Regions from separate parts of the Homo sapiens genome. Here region 1 is linked to region 2. Evidence: fine-mapped expression QTL. A gene starts in region 2. The other region holds a variant in brackets. All regions are shown on one strand. Distances are from middle to middle.

Evidence for each region. PIP is the estimated chance that this variant, and not a neighbour inherited with it, causes the effect.
Region 1: its variant is fine-mapped to the expression of BFSP1 in whole blood (TOPMed, PIP above 0.99).

Annotation. Positions count from the first base shown.
Region 1 is chr20:17,501,692-17,512,251 of GRCh38, reverse strand. BFSP1 (beaded filament structural protein 1) reads left to right here. Exons shown (of 8, transcript NM_001195.5): 4 at 184-276; 5 at 3,256-3,363. Among named protein-coding and RNA genes, the nearest start is that of BFSP1, 24 kb to the left of the region's middle. RefSeq lists an enhancer at 7,217-7,740. The variant T/A (reference allele first, on the strand shown) is at 6,605.
Region 2 is chr20:17,525,765-17,536,324 of GRCh38, reverse strand. It overlaps BFSP1 (beaded filament structural protein 1), which reads left to right and starts at 4,946. Exons shown (of 8, transcript NM_001195.5): 1 at 4,946-5,372. The coding sequence starts at 4,996. RefSeq lists enhancers at 2,733-2,792, 4,606-5,145, 5,146-5,686 and silencers at 4,882-4,931, 5,052-5,381, 5,402-5,451.

The DNA of each region.
Region 1 (10,560 bases), 24 kb after region 2:
GTGGGCAGGCCCACCCATGGCAGCAAATGCATCAGTCTCTTCTTCCTCCTGAACCTGGTCATGGTCTGTCCTGTCTGTGATGAGGGAGCGTGCGGAAGTGTCCATTCCTGTTCTCATCTAGTACTAGAAGGAAAAACCAGCGCAGCTCAACTTATAATGAGAATGTTTTCCCTCCCCCAACAGAATCTTCTGGAAGTTCAGACCTATATCAGCATCCTGCAGCAGATCATCCACACCACTCCTCCAGCATCCATTGTGACGAGTGGGATGAGGGAGGTAAGAATTGAAGCAGGAAAAGGCAAACCAGCCCTGGAGGGAAGCTGTACCTGGAGACTCCCAGGGAAGGGCTCACAGGTTGGACTGTGAGGGCGGCCACCAGGGTCCACTCCCCACTCCTGCCTTGTATTCTCATCTGAAGTTTCTTCTTCTGATATTTTACTTGTACTGTAAATGCCAATATTTAGACATGTGAGGATGTAAACCGCATCCTTGACCATTTTCTTCGGTATTTTCTCTTGAGAATTATGAGCTGTTCTTCCTTGCATACTTTATAAGAAATGACCAAGCTGCTTTCCAAAGCGATGTGCCATTGTTGCATCTCCACCCACAATGCGTGAGGGTTTCTGTGGCTTCCTGTCCTTGCCAGCACTTGGTATGTCAGCTTTGTAGTGTGTCTTTGCTCTTCTAATGGTGGTGGTTTTAATTTGCATCCCCTAATGACTAAGGAAGCCGAGCATCCTTTTGTGCACTCATCTGCCATCCGGATAGCTTCTTTGTGGAAGTATCTGCTCAAGCCTCTTGCCCATTTAAAAAATTGGTTTGTTTCCTTATTCTCCCTATCAATCTGATAATGAATTTCAAATACAGATAATCTCAGATAATTAGTGAATATATTTCCAAGACGGAGCTCTGCTAATGATTATGTGAGCCTGTGGCATTGAAACTAGTGGGAAAGGATAGAGATTGTTGAAGCCAATTTGTAAAAATTAAGATTTGGATATGAAAAATTACTTCTGATATTATGTTCCAAATTCCTTCTTCATTTGACTCTCTAGCTGCTCAACGGGATAGTAACGCTTTTCCTAATATGGTTTATGGAATTTTGTGATGCATAGCATGATATATATATATATAGACTGGTGCTGAGTGAGGTGGCTCATGCTTGTAATCCCAACTACTCAGGAGGCTGAGGTGGGAGGATCATTTGAGGCTAGGAGTTCAATACCAGCCTGAACAACATAGCAAGACCCCATCTCTAAACAAACAAACAAACAAGAAGCAAAAAAACCCCACAAACACTGGAAATGATGCAAATTAAATAAAAATGTTACAGTGTCCCTTCTTCAGAGGTTGTGGTAGGCTACTACAGGGTTTGGTGGATTGGTCAAGAGATAAGGTTCTGGGTCTTTTTGCAAGGATGACCTAGGATGGTGGCTCTCAACCCTGGTGACACTTGAAATTGCCTAGATGTGTGCTCAGGCCATGCTCCGAGTCAATGAATGGGCTTCCCAGGAGGTGGGGCCTGCCCAGGACCAGCATGCAGACAAACTGCTGCAGAACCCATGGGCTGGGGTCACCGGCTGCCTGAACTTTTTCGTCTTAATTATTTTATACAAAGCTAAAGAAATCCCCAAATTTGCTTTAGAAGACACTTTTGAACCCTGCAAAGTATCATCTAAGCGACAGGAAAGTTACTTTTTTTGGCATTCATGAGGATAGTCTTGTCTGAATTGCCCACCAGTTACCATTTCAGGATCCTGTTCTCCTTAGTGGATGTAACTGATGTTGCTACAAAGGCCTAAAAAAACTTTTCCTGAAGCCTTAATTTTCTTTCCCAGAGATTCCTTTCCAGAGATGTTACTTTTATTTTTCAAACCCAACTCTAACTCAAAGGTGTTTTACATCCGAGCATACCTTTTGAATTGTATCATCTATTCCCATGTAATAAGACCCTTCTAAGTCATAAGTATACAGACACTAAACTGACTTTGATGTCATCGATCAGCATCGTCTGGGCTTGTGAGACGTGCAGAGTGTCCAGTCCAGCCTCAGACCCACTGAGGCAGAATCTGCATCTTAGCCAGATCCGCAGGGACTCGTGTGCATGCTCAGGATAGAGAAGCACCGATTGAGAAAGTGTCACATCTTTATGAGTCTTAGCTTAGCAATTCTACAATCAAGTTAGACGGTCACTTTCCTGTATGTCTATGTCATTGCTGCAGCCACTTTGTAAGGTGTTTGAAGCAGAGGCTGTCTTCCATGCAGCCTCTGGACACAGAAACCCTCATTGTAGACTTGGTGTTTGATTTTGCATGGCTTCGAGTCAATGTGCTCTGTGTCAGAATGCATGGCTCTTGAGCAGTCAGGCCTTTGTGAAACAATTTGAATATTTTTGAATAGACGTGGAAAGGCAGGTCAGGAGAGAGGGACCTGCTTGGCAGAGTGTGGAGAGGTCAGAGGATTTCCTTCTAGCCATTCCCTGGAGCGTCACTTCCCTTTCACCCACTGGGGCTGATGGCTCCTGCTTTGTGCTGCGCTGACATCCGAGCACAGCGTATGGCTCGCGGCTCCAACCAGCCTTCATTTTCTTCGAGAGTGTGCATTCCAGGTTTTCCCTTTCACAGAAGGGAAAACAGAGGCTTTGAGAGTCAAATCCTTTTCTAGAGTCTCTTAGTAGGTTCATGGCACAGCCAGGTCTAAGCTCTGGTCTCCTGGTACTTGGTCCCGGCATGTCACACTCCCAAGGAGGTTCAGACTTTGAAGACAAAGCAAAAGGCATTGATGGCTGTGCTGTGGGCCTGGCTTAGTCTTCTCAGGCTACTATAACAGGACACTACAGATGGGAGGGCCGACAGGCAGACATTTACTTCTCACTGTCCTGGGTGCTGGAAGTCCAAGATCAAGATGCCAGCAGAATTGGTGTCTGGTGAGGGCTCTCTTTCTGGCTTGAAGACGGCTGCCTTCTTGCTGTGTCTCACGTGACAGACAGACAGGGGGTGGGGGTGGGGGCTCTGGTGTCTCTTCTTGTTCTTACAAAGACCCTAATCACATGATGGGGCCCCCCATCCTCATGACCTCATCTAACCCTAACACCTTCCAAAGGTCTCCTAAAACCTTCATCTTGGGAGTTAGTTAGGGCTTCAACACAGAATTCAGGGGGACACGGATATTCCGTCCATACCAGGGCCCCGCACCTTCTCTGCCCTTTTCCTCTCTGCATGTCCCATGAGTCTGACTCTGGCCTTCTCTGTGCAGGAGAAGCTCCTGACGGAGCGGGAGGTGGCCGCCCTGCGGAGTCAGCTGGAGGAGGGCCGGGAGGTGCTCTCCCACCTGCAGGCGCAGAGAGTGGAGCTGCAGGCACAGGTACGCTCGAGTCTGCCGCGTGTGCATTGGGGCTTCCCACATGTTTCATGGAGGTGTTACGCGCAGGCACACGCATGCAGCTTGAGGAGCTGTCACACGCTGAACATATCCTATGTTCCTGGCAGAAACGGGGTTTTCTGAGTGGGTGGCCAAGCGCTCTGCTCTGGCCTGGACTGAGGAGTTTTCCAGGACACAGGGAGAGTCCTGAGCTGGGGGACACAGGTGCCACGCTCATTCCTGGCCCCTCAGAGGTGCCCCTTGGGACTCCTTCGAGTCATGCCCTCCCCACCGAGTCTTAGGCTTAGGCTGCCCCAGTGTCTACATCATGCATTCATTTTGCCCAGGTCAAGCTTCGTAAGAATAAGAAGAAACGGACACCATAGGGATTTTTATCCTCCACTTGTTCAAATCTGTGCTTCTGTTTTCCTTCTCATGGTAACAGTTCTCCTTCGGAATTTGATTACAACCCGGCAAGAGTGGTTGTATCAGTGTTTGCTTCTAGTTAGAAACGTGTTGGTGGAAAGCTCACATTTCTACCCCCACCCCTTTTGGGTGAAGCTTAATTTGAAAACAAAACAGAAAAGCCCCAAACTGTCCTGTGGCCTGTGCCTTCTTGGCTACTTGCCGGCTCATCTTCTTTGTTCCTTCCGGTTCTCTCTCTTTCTCATTACCCTACAGCAGGTCATTCCACAGGGACGCTTGGGTTAAAATACTGCACCTTTGTATGGCTCTCTAACCACATTTCCCAAACCAAAAAGTAAGTTGACATTTGGTTTGACAAGTACACATGGGGACAAGAGAGCAAAACGTGTAAAAATCGGACACTTCAGAAAGCCTGGACCATTTGGATGTTATGTGTTACTCTGTCTAAAAATGTGAAGCCACAACTAGATGTAGCGCTTTTTATTGATTTCCAGTGCCCCCATGTCTGCTCAGGATTTCATTTTGGGACCTTGGAGTTCACATCCTAATTCCCATCCCAGCACGCACCACACAAAACTCACAGTGCAGCAGCTCTCAGGGGCTGCTGGAAAGCAAACCCGGGTCTGTGGTGGTCCCCTGAACTGACGATCGCAGCAGGAGGAACCAAGTAAGGCACTTAAAACTCCTCCTTCTTGTGAGACAAACCCTGGCTCAGGGACCATGTGCCTCATCCTGGTGACTGGGGCCTGTGTGGTTTCTTCTGAGGCTCTGACAGGATAGAATAAGGGTTGTATGTGTTTGTGTACATGGGGTGTGTGTGTGTGATATACATGGTATGTGTGATATATGTGGGATGTGTATGTGAAGTGTGTGTGGTGTGTGTGTGTCATGTGTATGTGTGTGTGCTGTGTATGTGAATAGGGACGTGGATACAAGCCCAGTCGTGGTCCTAGAGACCAGTGTTTTCCAAATGGCTAGTGACAACTCATTTTTGGATGTAAAATGAACTCAGTAGAATTGACTGGCATGTAAAAGGAAGTCAACAAAATGCTAGACTAAAATATAATAAGAAAAACAGAGTGTACAGCAAGTGAAAGGGAGGATTTGTTTTGTGAAGCCCTTGTTTTATCTCTCTATATCCATATGGATATGTTGAAATACACACACACACACACACACACACACACACACACCTACCTATCTGATGTGTATGGCTCGCAATGAGAAATGTGGTTTTTCCTGGGGCGGTGGTGATAAAGTTGAAAACCACTGCCCTAGAGATACTGAGAAAGATGAAGGAGCCCAGCCTAGATGGCAAATTCCAGTTCCAGGACAAAAAGAATGTTCCTCTCTTTATGTACAGGTATTTGTTGAATATCAAAATAAGAAATTTCACAACAGATTAACCTGGTTTCTGAGAACATGAAATGAAACCGCTGGTTGGCCGCCTGTTTCTGTCCTGAGTGGCTGCAGGAGGACTTCCTGGCTTTTCCCTGCTGCCCTCGTCTCTAAAGCAGGGTCTCAAACATCTCTTCTGTGCTGCCTCCTCCACTCCCACCCGTGGCATTCTGATGGAGACCGCTTCTCAGAAAAATGATGGTAAAGGCATAAAATAAAATACAGATAATTTAAAGGAAACCAGGCTGGGTGTGGTGGCTCACGCCTGTAATGCCAGCACTTTGGGAGGGCAAGGTGAGTGGACTGCTCGAGTCCAGGAATTTGAGACCAGCCTGGGCCACATGACGAAACCCCACCTCTACAAAAAATACAAAAATTAGCTGGGCGTGGTGGTGCGTGCCTGTGGTTCCAGCTACTTAGGAAGCTGACATGGGAGGACTGCCTGAGCCTGGAGAGGTTGAGGCTGCAGTGAGCTGAGACTGAGCCACTGCACTCCAGCCTGGGCAACAGAATGAGACCCCGTTTCCAAAAAAAAAAAAAAAGAAACTAATTATATTAAAACAGTTATCAAAATATTACTGAATCATTTTAAATAAAATGACAGATGTGCTTATACTCACTCAGTAACAAGCTATAGCATGTAGCTGATGAAACACGGCTGTGTCCATTTTCTGTTGCTGCCTTGATGAGTCACCACCAGCACCCGTGTCATCGCAGTTGTGTAGGTGGGAAGTCTGGGTGGGTCCTATCGGTTTCTCTGCTCTGGGTCTCAAAAGGTAGAAAGAAAGATGTTGGCCAGCCTGGGCCCTTGTCCAGAGGCTGTTAGGGGAGAATTTGCTTCCAGTCTCATTCAAGTTCTTGGCAGGAGTGAGGACCCTGTTTCTTTGCCGGCTGCTGGCCAGGAGTGGCTGTCAGGGCTGCCCAGGCTCCTTGGCTTCAGGCCCCTCCACGTTCGGAGCCGGCAGCGAACTCTGAACCCTCTTCCTGCGTCTCATCTCAATGACTTGGACTTACACGTTTCTCTGACTTCTGTTTTTAGGGGATAATCTTGAATAAACTCCTTTCCTTAAAAAAGGGTAACTGATTAAGAACTTTAATTATATCTGCAAAGTCCCTTTTTGCCATGTAACATATTCAAGGGTGTAGCACCAAGGGGAAAAGGTCACGGGGGCCAAAATTCTGCCTCCTTAGCTCTGATGAAAACCCAGACGTGGCTGGGTGCGCCCGGGAGCTCCTGACTCAGTGGGTCTGGGGTGTGGCCCGGGATGCTGCATGTCTAGGTGTCCCTGTGATGGTGCTGCGGCTGGTCCAGGAGCCACACTGAGAACCACAGGGTAAGGGCGGGTCCCAGGGAGTGGGCGAATGTTCCACCTGGTCCCCCTGTGTCCCAGGCTTGGGCCTCATTTCAAATGTTTGTGGC[T/A]GGGTTTTTGCTGGTTTTAAAGGTTTTAGTGGCTTCCCAATGTAGCAGCTAAGCTAGAGCTGAAGGAAGATGTGGCCGCACACCGCCGGGCAGGGCCCGCTCTGTGGCCGGAACTCGGTGGAGGGCGGGCCGAGAGAGAGCGTCTGCTAGCACCAGGGCCGTGGCAGCGGGTTCCGCCTATGGTTAGGGCGTCCGAAGCTTCCCGAACTCTCCACAGCAGGGGTCGTCAGGGTGAGGTCCCCGTCCCAGCAGCGGGGGCACCACCTGGGAACTTGTCAGAAATGCAGATTCACAGGCACCCCAGACCACTGACCCAGGAGCTCTGGGGCGGGCCGGTGCGCCTTGTTTAAGCCCTCCACGTGGCTCTGCGGGCTCAGTCTGGGAGACGCTGGGCGGACGATGGGAGAATAGTGCCTGGGCTTGGAGCTGGAAGCTGGAAGCCTCTCCTTCAAATAAGTGCACATATACCCGTAAGAGCCCCGGAGGAAGCACTTCGGACAGGTGGAGAGGAAAGGACAGGTAATTCTAGTTCCCTAAATTGCATGGACTGAGAGTTTCTGTGACAGGGAAGTAAAGAAAGTCACTTTTTAAAATTGCAAAGTGGGAACCGCCCATGTCTCATTTCTCATTAAAGTCACTTAGCACCATCTAGTGGTTTAGTTTGTGTAAGACAGTATGTAATGAGTTTCCTTTTTTTTTTTTTTAAGACAAAACAAAAACAAAAACAAAAACAAAAAAAAAACCTTACACCTAAAGGTGTCTGGGGTCCTAAGGACTGAGGTGAGAGCTCACCCCTCCAGATGGGGCTCGCGTCAGGCTCCTGCCTGTGTCGTGCCCTCAGCGGCTCACAGCCCAGTGGGGAGACAGATATAAACCAGGCAATCTAACGGTCCAGGCAGAAACAGCAGTCACCTGGCTCCGGATAAAGTTCAGGTTGCCACATGGCCCCACCGTTGGAGGAACCCTGGGCCAACCTCTCTTCTCTTCGTCTCCTGACCCCTCCTGCAGTTTCTGGGACCTCCCCTTTGCTCATTCCTTCTCTCCTTTCTGGAAGTCCCTTTCCTTCCTCGGTTCCCAGGACCGGTCCTGCCTCCTCCTGGAAGCCCCTTTCTTCCTCTGAGATGCCCTGGGCGTGCCTCCCCTGCTGGACTGCGGCCTTCTAGAGGAGGGTCCGTGTCTCATTCTCCTCGGCCAGGCTGGTGCTGGGTGGCAGTGGACGCCGTGCCACAGTGGCTCTCGTCACAGGCATCTCCATTCCTGTTGAGCTCCTGAGACAGGAGCTCTTACTGGTTTTCCTGAACACTCTTCCTTCTGATGAAAGGTTTAAATTATGGAGCTGTAAAAACCACATCGGTATAGACATCAGTCCACTTTTATAAACCAAGTCATCACTTCACTGGACTCAGCAGAATCCCGTAGAGCATCTGCGACCAGTACGGAGTTGGAGGGCTCTGGGCCTCATGGTCATGTGGGGGATGGGGGCTGTGGGGGCGCCCAGGACAGGAGCTCCTCCCGCAGTGTTCCAGCAGAGGATCTCCAGCCTTTAAAACATGCAGCCTTCTTCAAACAAACACAAATGCACACCCAAGAAAACACCCCATCCCTCCACCCCCTACCACTACCACAAAAACAACAATCACCACTTCCTGAGACATAAAAAGATTGCACTCCACTTGTAGGGTAGAAAGATCACAGGTGACTTTCCTGGGCTCTCATTTCCCATTCTGTGATGCTTTGTGGTTCTATTTACAGTTTAAAACTTTGCTAAGTGAAAACCTGCAAGGAGAGGTCTCTGCATGGCTCACACTGACTTTCCCATGTCTTCAGAGAGAACAGGCTGGTGTTGGCCTGTTGCTGTGTGGGAATGGGGAGTTTGCAGGGGCCCTGGAGACAGAGTGTGTGTGTGTGCACGCACGTGTGTGCTTGCATATTGTTGCCTGCAGCAGGGAGGAGGCTGAGGTGCAGGGCAAGGGTGGCCTGGTTCTGGGAGGTGTTTCAGACCTTGTTCAGGTAGATTCGAATCCTGCTGTGGTATTTATGGGCAAGCCACTTTGCCAGTGTGCCCCAGTTTCCTCATCTGTAAAGTGGAAATAATGACAGCCCTTCCCTGATAAGGTTGTTGTGAGGTTGATGAGTTGACCCAGCTTAGGACTTATCAGCATGAGCCACTACCCCCGCTCTGGGCTGGGGAACCCACACCCAAAAGGAACGGCCACCCCAGAGCTCTTGGGTCAGTGATCTGGGGTACATTCTCTTCATATGTAATTTTTTCTTTTACTCTTTATTATGGAAGATTTCAAACATAGAAAAGTGAGAGATTATAGGTGCTATGGCTCACGCCTGTAATCCTAGTACTTTGGGAGGCCAAGGTGGGAGGATCACTTCAGCCCAGAAGTTCAAGACCAGCCTAGGCAACATAATTAGACCTTGTCTCTACAAAAAAAAATTTTTTTTTAATTGGCTGGGCATGGTGGCATTCACCTGTGGTCTCAGCTACTGAGGAGACAAAGGTGTGGGGACCACTTGAGCCCAGGATGTGGAGGCTTCAGGGAGTCCTGATGGCAGCACTGCACTCCAGCCTGGGCAATAGAGTGAGACCCTGCCTGTCTCAAAAATTAAAAGTGAGAATAGTCTGTCTCATGAGCCCTCCCGCCCCATCCCTCAACACATGGCCCCTCTATGTTCTCTACAGCCCCACACACTTCCCTCACCATGTAATTCCAACACTTCTTTGAGATTTGGGGCTCAAAGGGGTCTTTTCAATCCCCATATTCCTTGAAAGTGTTTCCTGGAGTGTCTGAACACTCTGGTGTGGGTGAGATGTGGCTGCACCAGGCGTTAGTGTGTCTGACTTGTATTTGCTATTACAGGCGACTGTTTGAATCCAGATTTCTTGGGAGAAACAGAAACTGGATCACACTAGCTGAAACAGGAAGGGGACTCTTGTTTTATTCAGAAGTAATTTTAGATTTTTGAAAAGTTGCAAAAACAGCACAGTAGCTTCCAATATATACCCCTCACCCAACTTCCACAAAACCACGGGCCGATGATAAAAACCTGGAAATTAACAGTGATCCTGTCGCATTAATAGACTGCACTAAAATCTCACCAGTTGCTCCACGCGTGTTTTTTCCTGGTCGAGATCCTACTCACATTTAGGTGTCATGTCTTGATTGTCTCCCCCATACTGGGATGGTCCCCAGTCTTTCTCTGTCTTCCATGACCGTGATGCTTTGGAAGAACCCAGACCAGTGGCTTTGTGGCATGTCTCTCCTTTTGGGTTTCCCTGATGTTTTCTCAGGATTAGATGGAGGTTCTGCATTCTTGGCAAGACCCCCATGGAGTGACGCTGTGTCCTGAGTATTTCGTTATGTGGCTGTGTCCTCATACAGGTGACAATAACTCTGATCACTTGGTTAAGGTGCTGTCTGCCAGTTTTCTCCACCGGAAAGGTACTATTTTTTTTTTTTTCCAAAGGAGCAGGGTATAAAAGGCAGGGCATGAAATCTGAGAGCAGGTGTGCATCAGGAATCAGGAACCAGGAACTGGGAGCTGAGGCAGCCGCTCTCCGTCTCCTTTTCCATCTCTTCCTTCTCTTGCCATGGCTCCCTAATTTCTGTTTGTCTTTGCCTTTCGGCTTCATTTCTTTTCCTCTCCAAATAATTACCTTTCTCAACTTTGCCATGCACATGAAAGCTCGCCACTCCAGAGCGGCAGCCTCAGACCCGTTCATGTGTCCCTGTTGTCTAGAACCTCCCACCAACTCTGCGATTTCTGAGACCCCTTTCCAGATTCCCAGGAGAGAAGGCATGTGACAGGCCAGCCTAGGTCAGGCCCACCCCTGGTCCTATAACTCTGCACAGGAGAGTGGGGTCATCTTGTTGCTGGGACCGTGCCTTTGGATGGGTGGGGCTGACATCAGACACAGGGACAACGTGGACTGGACAGACATCTCC
Region 2 (10,560 bases):
CCCGCCTTGGCCTCCCAAAGTGCTGGGATTGTAGGTATGAGCCACTTCACCCAGCCTTAAACAACTTTAAATGGAATAAAAGATATGATGAACATTAAACCTGGCATATTTCACTAATTTCTGATATTTTTGTACTGCTAAAATTACCATGCATCTGGTATTTTGCTTTTCTTTTCCCCTTCAAGTTTGTTATAAGCATTTTTATTTATATCATAGTATATTCCACAAGGTTAAAATTGTTTGGTGGGGCCAGGTGTGCTAACTCTTACCTGTGATCCCAGCACTTTGGGAGGCTGAGGCAGGAGGATTGCTTGAGGGCAGGGAGTTCGAGACCAGTGTGGGTAACATAGCAAGACCCTGTTTTTTTAAAAAAATAAATACATAAATAAAATAAATAAGTAAAATTGTTCAATGGTTATAGCCCATTTTCTCCTATTGTTACTGCAGTTTGCTAAGCCATTCTCCTCTCTGCACCTCTCCCTCTCTTAGCCATTATACATATATATAGCTATAACATAAAGCAAGTAATATTTATTAAATGTCTATACTGCAAAGGTGATCACACTTTTTGCAGGTGTTTTGGAAAATAATTTCAAACTTTCTAGGAAAAATGGCAAGAATAGTACAAACAACCCAGATTCACCTCTTAATATTTTGTCTAATTTCCTTACTATCTCTCATACTTATTTATGTTTATATTTATACATGTCATTTTATTCAGAATCATTTGAGAATAAGTTGCATACATCATGGGTCTTTGCTCCTAGATAGTTCAGAGTATATTTTCCTTTTTTTGAGATGAAGTCTCGCTCTGTTGCCAGGCTGGAGTGCATTGGCATTATCTCGACTCACTGCAACCTCTGCCTCCTGGGTTCAAGTGATTCTCCTGCCTCAGCCTCCCAAGTAGCTGGGACTACAGGTGTGTAGCACCATGCCTTGCTAATTTTTTTGTATTTTTAGTACAGATGGGGTTTCACCATGTTGGCTAGGATGGTCTTGAACTCCTGACCTCATGATCCGCCCACCTTGGTCTCCCAAAGTGCTGGGATTACAGGCGTGAGCCACCGTGCCCAGCCTGAGCCCTCAGAGTGTATTTTCTAAGAATAATGATATTATTTTACATAGCTGTAGCATAGTCATAAACTTCAGTAAATTTAATCTTGATACAATTTTATGTTCTAATCTACTATTTATATTCTAATTTTGTTAATGAACCTAGTGATAACCTTTATAGCAGTTTTTCTCCTCCAATACAAGATCCAGTCTAGGATCCATATTGCATTTATTTATTTATTTTTATTTTTGAGATGGAGTCTCACTCTGTCACCTAGGTTGGAGTGCAGTGGCGTGATATTGGCTCACTGCAACCTCTACCCCTCCGGATTCAAGGAATTCTCATGTCTCAGCCTCCCGAGTAGCTGGGACTACAGGCACAAGCCACGACGTCCGGCTAATTTTTTGTATTATTAGTAGAGATGGGGTTTCACCATGTTGGCCAGGCTGGTCTCGAACTCCTGACCTCAGATGATCCACCCACCTCAGCCTCCAAAGTGCTAGGATTACAGGCATGAGCCACCACACTCGGCCCTATACTGCATTTAGATGTCCTGTCTCTTCAGTCTCCTTTAATCTGGAACATTTTCATAGCTTCTCTTTGTCTTTTATGATATTAACATTTTTATAGAATACCATCCCCCTTCTGTTTTTATTAATAGGATGTTCCTTCTTTGGGATTTATCTGGATGATTCCTTATGGTCAGATATAGGCTACATATTCAGGTTATGCAGGCCAGATAAAAGACGTGTATTTCTCAGACAAACCAAGATACCCTTGAGAGTGAAAGATGGTGCTTGCTATATTTACGCTGAGATAGTGGGTGTAAATGTGTCTTAGGCAAACTGGGATGTGTGGTTACCCTACTTACATAAGTGATTATTCTCATTTTACCAGTCTCCATACTGGGACTAGATAGGTTAAATCACTTACTGAAGTGATGGGACCAGAACTTAACCTCAGATCTTTCTTATTCTAAAACATCCATTTCCTGTCCCTGCCCCCAAACTAGTGCCATTCAACTGTATTTAGAGTAACTCTTCCATAGCTGACCTTTCATCAAGTCCTGTGGAATCTATCTCTACGAACATGTCTCTTGAATTAACAAATTCATTCAGCAATGATTTCTTCCTTATGCATACGATCTCTACTCCTACTGAATGGTCTCCTATCAGTGATATGGTCTTTAGGGCTGTTGACAAATATTGCACACTCCTTCTAAGCACATAGCAGGATTGCATTTCCCAGTGCACCTGAAGTTAGACAATACAACCACAGCATTTTGCTAAGATCTTTATTTTAGAAGTTGTCCAGATTATCTTGTGTTTTCATTAGTCAGTATGGATTCGCCTCCTGCACCCTGAGGGCAGAGACTTGATTTTGTGCAATATTTAACTCTGAGGCTACGCTTTGTGAGGAGATATTTTCTGAGTGTTTATTTCACTGGATTAAATTGAAAGAATTTTTTGTTATGTTTCTAGAATATATTTTTCTCAAATGGTATTGCCATGTGTGGTCGATTGAGTTGTGGGTCCTGATTCTCCACTCCAGCATGATGGGATTATCCACCCACACCCTTGCCAGGGCCTCAGGCTGAGCCCTGCCTCCTCCTTGCTTCCTCTTGACTTTATTTGTGGCCATGTGATTTGCTTTGACCAATGAGATGTCAGCAGACATGATGCAAACAAAGGCCTGGGATGAGCTTGTGTGGCTGGGCTTGCTCTTGTGCTTTTTTCATTGCTAGTTTAGAAGCTTGAGGGACATTGGGAGCAGAGCAGCCCCTGCTGAAAGGAGACCTACAGCTGGAAGACAGCTGAGCTCCCAGCCCCAGGGAATGCAGTGATAAATACTTCTATTTTGTTCTGTAGCAATATTTGACTGATACATGGTATCATAGGGAACAAATGATTTTATAACTCTTGCTATATGTTGGTTTTGCTCTCGTGAGGAAGCCTGAAGTCAATTTACCATGCTATCAGCATGGTATATGTGCACCTACAAAAATATTCATGTGGTTATCCTCAATTTGACCATACAATTACATTTTATGTATTTTTATTTATTATTTTTATTTTTATAAATAAAAGAAATGGGGGTCTCACTATGTTGCCAAGGCTCGTCTTGAACTCCTGGCCTCAAGAGATCCTCCCACTTTGGCCTCCCAAAGTTCTGGATTAGAGGTGTGGTCCACTGCACCTGGCCAAATCTAATTTTAAATGGTTTAAGAAAATAGAACAATAACCATGCCACCAGCACAGTTTAGGGCCTTGCAGAGCTTTATTCCAGACGGAATCTATTATCTTGAGGTAATATTTTGGTGTAATAATAAACTCCACAAAGATCTGTGTAATTTTCTTTCTCTATCTTTGATAACTATGACTTTAATTTGTAGTATAATCACACACAATCCATATAGTTAGTAATTATATGGTACTACTAATCCTTTTAAGAAAACAACCCTTTTGATACTTATTTTTAAAGTTGGAGATATGACAAAATATTTACATTCAGAAACATTCTCATCAAGTGGTATTAATTTCTTTTCTTAAATTTACTTTTAAATTTGTCAAAGTCTAGCTATTAATTATATATATATATTTTAAAAGCTTGTCCTTAAAATCCAACTATTAGTTCCATAATAAAAATTAAAATGGAACATAATGGCACAAAATCCTTTATTATTCTCGAATTGAGGGTTGGCCAATTAATGGCGGATCACTTGAGCCCAGGAGTTTGAGTCCTGCCTGGGCAACATAGCAAGACCCCATCTCATTTTTTATTAAAATTTTTTTGTATTACATTTTATGTTAAAAAAAGAAAAAGAAAAAAGCAATCTTTTTTTCTTTTTCTTTTTTTTTTTTTTTTTGAGACGGAGTCTCACTCTGTTACCCAGGCTGGAGTGCAGTGGGGCGATCTCGGCTCACTGCAGCCTCCGCCTCCCAGGTTCCAGCGATTCTCCTGCCTCAGCCTCCCAGGTAGCTGGGATTACTGGCACACGCCACCACGCCTGGCTAATTTTGGTATTTTTAGTAGAGACGGAGTTTCACCATGTTGGCCAGGCTGGCCTCGAACTCAGGTGATCCGCCCGCCTCGGCCTCCCAAAGTGCTAGGATTACAGGCGTGAACCACCTATTACAGGCCCATGGGTGGGGCTCTATTTGTTTTTTCCATTCAAGAAAGCATGTCAAACTCCATCAGAGCATGGGTGAATTATAAAAACATAACCGTGCATGTCTCCTAAGTTATTGTAGGCTTTTATGCACGGGTATTACTAAGAAATTACTTGCGCCACACCTCACTACTTAATGGAGACATGCCATTTTATTTTGCATCCATGGTTAAGAACCTCTGCTATACAGAAGGGTCCTAAACGTCATGTTATGATTATGAAAAAGAATTGCATGCATAACCGAGCAATTGGAAATAAAAAAGACCAAAAGAAAAAAAAAAGAATTGCTTAAGTAATCAGAAAAAAAAAATGGCATTGTTAAAGAGTTCTACAATTGAGTTTGAATGCAAGAGGAGACAAAGTGACAAGCCCTGGGCTCTTGAGCTAGTCCAAGTTTAAAGAGTTCGCTTGGGGATTCCTTCACAGTCCCCAGTGGAACCAGTGAAAAGAGCGTCATGGCTCCCGTGTCCCCTGACCCTCCATTCAATCAAAAGCAACAGGCCTGAACAATCACGGAACAAAAACCTCATTGCCCAGCGTAACCTTCCAACCCCGGAGCTGTATGGGCCGCTAATCCGCCGCACAAAGCGGGCCGCTGCTCTTTTCTTCTCCCGCGCCCGGGCCCAGCGTGGCGCCCAACTGCTGATCGGCTCTGGAACGTCCCAGCAGCGCGCCGGGGGCCTCCGGTGTTTATTTAGCGGGCTGCGGGCTGCGCCGGGGGCCTCCTGGAGAGCCGGCTCGGCGCCGCCCGCGCGCCCGCGCCAGAGCAGCCATGTACCGGCGCAGCTACGTCTTCCAGACCCGCAAGGAGCAGTACGAGCACGCCGACGAGGCTTCGCGCGCCGCCGAGCCCGAGCGCCCGGCCGACGAGGGCTGGGCTGGGGCAACGAGCCTGGCGGCGCTGCAGGGGCTCGGCGAGCGCGTGGCCGCCCACGTCCAGCGGGCCCGCGCCCTCGAGCAGCGCCATGCCGGGCTCCGGAGGCAGCTGGATGCCTTCCAGCGCCTGGGCGAGCTGGCCGGGCCCGAGGACGCCCTCGCCCGCCAAGTCGAGAGCAACCGCCAGCGCGTCCGGGACCTGGAGGCCGAGCGCGCCCGGCTGGAGCGCCAGGGCACCGAGGCGCAGCGCGCGCTCGACGAGTTCCGAAGCAAGTAAGCGGCGGCCATCGGGGGAAACCGAGGCAGGGCGTGGGCCGTCCCGGCGGCGCGGGGCTGGGAGCACGCTGCTACCATGCAGGGGTGGAGCGCCGTCTCTGGTCCCCTGTCGATCGATGACCTCATCCCTGCACGCAGGTGGCACATTTCCTTAAGCTAAGACTGGCTTCTGTTTTGATGGCACGTCACAGTTTACACGAAGTTGTATCATTTACTTTTCATCTATTTTTAAATTTTGGTATAACTTACATGTTATAAAATGCACAGATTTGAAGTGCATAGTTCAGTGAGTTTTGACAAATGTATATACCCGTGTTACCACGAAAACAAGTGAGATATTTCCACTACCCCTGAAAGTTCCCTCCTCCCCTTTCCCAGTCAGTCCCCTTTGCCCCAGACCGGAGGCACCCATTCTGATTTCTATCACCATAGATTGACTTTGCCTATTCTACAGTTCCACAAAAATAGAATCTTACGGGATGTACTCTATTGTCTGGCTTCTTTTGCTCAGCACATTGGTTTTGAGATGTACCGATGTTATTTAATCCTTACATACTTATCTTTACTGCACCTGTTTTACAGATGAGGCGACTGAGGCTCAGAAAATGTAGGGATTTGGCCAGCAAGGCCCCTCAGCTGGCGAACTGCTGTCCCGGGACTGGAATTTAGGTCCTGGGCATGCTAAGTCTAATTGCCTTCATGGCATAGCAGCTGACACCTGGGAATTATGCTCAGTATGTGTCCTCTAGTGTCTTGATACTCAAAGTGCGGTCCATGGACCAGCAGTATTGGCATCACCCGGGAGTTTGCTAGAAATACAGATTCTTGGGCCCACCCTAGAACTCCAGAATCAGAATCTGCATTTTAACAAGCTCCCCAGGTGATTTTCAGTTTAAAAAGTTAAATGTTGACTAAGCAGCACTGGTCCAGGGCATGGTCTCCCCTCCCACAGATTGAGTAATGTGTTAAAATCACATAGGAGCTGTTAAAAAAAAGATGCAATTTGTCAACATTTTTTCAAGTTATAAATGTGTGTGCTCTTTGACTCAGAAGGCTACTTTGAGGAATGTATTATAGGATGCACTCCAGCAGGTGTGCAATGGCATGCCTCCACCAATACTGCAGCAGGTACACTCCAGCAGGTGTGCAATGGCATGGCTGCAAAGATACTCACTGCAACAGGTACACTCCAGCAGGTGTGCAATGGCATGCCTGCAAAGATACTCACTGCAGCAGGATCTGCAATAAGCCTGGAACCAAATAAATGCCCATTAAAAGGAGACAGGTGCTTCCTCCATGTAATGGAATACTATGCAGTGGAAAAAAGTATGTTATTGTCATGTAGTCTTTTAAAAGGGGAGGAGAGTAGAGTTTTTTTTTTGCTTGCATAAAAAGAATTTCAGGACACACACAAAGACACACACACACAGACACACACACAGGCACATGCCCCAATGACACTGGCTACCTGAGGGAGATAAGTGAGTAGGAACTGAGCAATTGGGAGACAGAGGTGGGAAGGAGACTTTTAACAGAACATCTTTTTATATCTTTAAAAAAATTATTTAACTATGGGCTGGGTGCAGTGGCTCACGCCTGTAATCCCAGCACTTTGGGAGGCCAAGGCAGGCAGAACACTTGAGGTCAGGAGTTCCAGACCAGCCTGGCCAACATTGTGAAACCCTGTGTCTACTTTAAAAAATACAAAAATTAGCTGGGTGTAGTGGCACACGCCTGTAGTTCCAGCTACCCGGGAGGCTGAGGCAGGAGAATCACTTGAATCTGGGAGGCGGAGGCTGCAGTGAGCTGAGATTGCGCCACTGCACTCCAGCCTGGGTGACAGAGTGAGACTCTGTCTCACACACACACACACACACACACACACTTATTTAACCATGTAAGATATTCATCCATTTAAAATTACATAAATGAATTTTAAAATACAGATGTCTAGGCTCTACCCTGGACCTCAAGAGGGGCCCAGAAGCTTAAACATTTTTAATGAGTGCCACTGGTCATTCCAGCCAGATTTGGGAACCCTTGGCATAGGGTAGTCAGAGGATTTCTGTAAACCTGCTCTATGTTTGAGTTCCAGTTTCTCAATCTGAATCTTGGGCAGGTTATTCATTGTTGTGTTCTGAACACATTTATCAAATCACATTTATTGATTCGATTCCTGTCAGCTCTTTTGTCTTGGGGTTTAATCTGTAGAAACAGACTTGGAGCTGGTAGAAGGGACCTGAAAATCCACTTGTTACAGAACTTCATGGGGAAACTGAGCCTGGGAGAGGGCCTGTGGGTGGCAGAACTTGAACCTGGGTTTTCTCACCCTGGGCCTATGCTCTTTCGGGAACACTGTATCTTGAGATAATCCGTTCTTGGACTCCTGCAGCCTAAGGCCCAGAAATAGGACCTCATTCAGATGAAGCTCATGTTCTCCAAAGCAAAGGGGGAAAGTGCCCTGTGGCTCAGACATCCGGGGCAGCTTGATGGACCATCAAGATTCCCTGGATGGCCTTTGTGTTGGCATTAGACCATAGTCTACTGTACTTTGGCTGGTAAGCATGACATCCATGAGTCCTAGTTGAAGGAAAGGCCATGTTGGGTTTTCCTGGTCTTTACTGATTGCACTTGGTTCTGAGTTATATGCCCATCATGAAGCAGTTCCATCAGGCTCTGTGATTTATTTAAAATTCATATTAATTTATTCCCTCCCTTTGCCCCCTTGGAGAAGTTTTGACATTTGGATTGTGGTAGTGGGAACTGAAAATCATTATAGAAATGCTCATCCACATCCATAGGCACACACACATACACATACATGCCAGGCTGGAGTTTACATTCCAGAGGTGAGTTGATGGCTACCTAAAGCCAGGGGAAAATAATGCAGCAATGGGTTAGTATGTGCAGGCTTGGTTCCATGCCAGTGCTAGGCATAGTCTCTACCTGGCAGTTGAATAATTTCAAAATCAGGTCTTTAACAGGTCAAAGACTAAACAAAACACTGAATAAAACAAGAATGAAATAAAAACAAAACTATCAAAATACAACAACAGAGTCAATTATTCAAATTGTTGAAAACTAAAAATAATTTATGTAAAACAGTTAATTGAAGCCAGTTTTTTCACTTTATGAATATACTTATATGAATATACACATCATGAATTCTTTGTAGTGAAATCACTCTCTCTCTCTCTCTTATTTTATTTTATTATTTTTTTTGATACAGAGTCTCGCTCTGTCACCCAGCCTGGAGTGCAGTGGCGTGATCTCGGCTCACTGCAAGCTCTGCCTCCTGGGTTCACGCTATTCTCCTGCCTCAGCCTCCTAAGTAGCTGGGACTACAGGCGCCCACTACCACACCCTGCTAATTTTTTTGTATTTTTAGTAGAGACAGGGTTTCACCGTGTTAGCCAGGATGGTCTCGATCTCCTGACCTCGTGATCTGCCCGCCTCGGCCTCCTAAAGTGCTGGGATTACAGGCGTGAGCCACCGCGCCCGGAAATCACTTCTCTTTAATATAATATCTAGACTTGTCTTTACAGCATGAAAATTACTCACAATATCAGGTTAATGTGTTGATCCTCAAACATGTTCTTAAGCTATGGAAACTCTTAGATATTTCCAGCAGGAAAGAGCAATAAGAAAATTAGATTTTATTAAGTTTTATTCTCAAAGCTAATTATACATTTAAAAACTAATTTCTGGCTCTGTTATTGCAACACACAAAATAAACTACTAAATGTAACATCCTGATGTGAAATGTAAAACTTATGCAGAGATGTTTAGTTTCCTAGATAGAACTCAGCTTCGCAGATGGTTTTAGATCTGGGAATGCGTGCACATTGCACATATTCATAATTGTTCTTCCTTCAGTTCATGACTTTTCCTTCTGAGAACATGGTGGTGTGGTTTTCTAGCACCTTTCATGGTTGCAGAATACTTGACTTGAACCCATGGCATGGGCATGCAAGGGCACAGAAAACTATGCTTTGTGGATTGGGCTCAGTGTTAATTAGGATTGCTTTCAACTATAAAGGACAGAAACTCCAAACTGACATTGACCCACTTCAGACCAATTAGGATGGCAACTATAAAAAACAAAACAAAACAAAAAACAACAGAAAATAAGTGTTTGTTAGGATGTGGAGAAATTATGGACTGTTGATGGGACTGTAAAATGGTACAGCCATTGTGGAAAACAGTATGGCAGTTCCTCAAAAAATTAAAAAATAGAGTTACCATATGATGCAACATTTCCATTTCTGTGCATATACCCAAAAGAATTGAAAGAGGGTTTTGAATAGCTACTTGCATATACGTGTTCATAACAGCACTGTTCACAATAGCTAAAATGTAGAAGCAACCCAAGTGTCCACTGACAAAGGAATACGTAAACAAAATGTGGTCGATACATAGAATATTATACACCCTTAAAAAGGAAGGTAATTCTGACATATGCTACAATATGGTTGAAACTTGAAGACATTATGCTAAGTGAAACAAGCCAGTCACAGAAAGAAAAATATTGTATGATTCCACTTACATAAGGTAGTTGGGCGTGTCAAATTCATAGAGACAGAAAGTACAATGGTGGTTGTCAGGGCTGGGGATGGGGAGAATGGGGAGTTAGTATTTAATGGGTACGGAGTTTCTGCTTTGCAAGATGAGGAGTTACAGAGATGGATGTTGGTGGTGATTTCACAACATTATGAATATATTTACTATCACAAACTATATACTTAAAATGGTTAAGTTGGTAAATTTTATGTTATGCATATTTTACCAGCCCCCCCCCCCCCCCCCCCGCCATACAGAAAAAAACAGAAAAAGTGATACTGGCTTACCCAAAATGTCATTGGCTTATCCAAAATGTTTCTCACTTGTGTAAGGTCTGGTTAAGCAGTTTAGTATGATACTGTACAGTATTTGGGACACAGAAGGTTCTGTGTGGCCTTCAGGAAGGCAGCATTCATGTTTCTGGCTGCAGGATGGAGGGAGGGATGGAAAATGAGAAGCAAAGGGCACACATACACCATTACTTAACTAAAGGTATCTGGAAGCTGCCATGCAGACTTATGCTTCCATCCCATTGGTCAGGACTTAGTCACATGGCCACACCTGGCTGCAAGGAATGCTGGAAAATGTAGTCTCCCTTCTAGGCAGTCCTGTGCTTGCCAAGCAT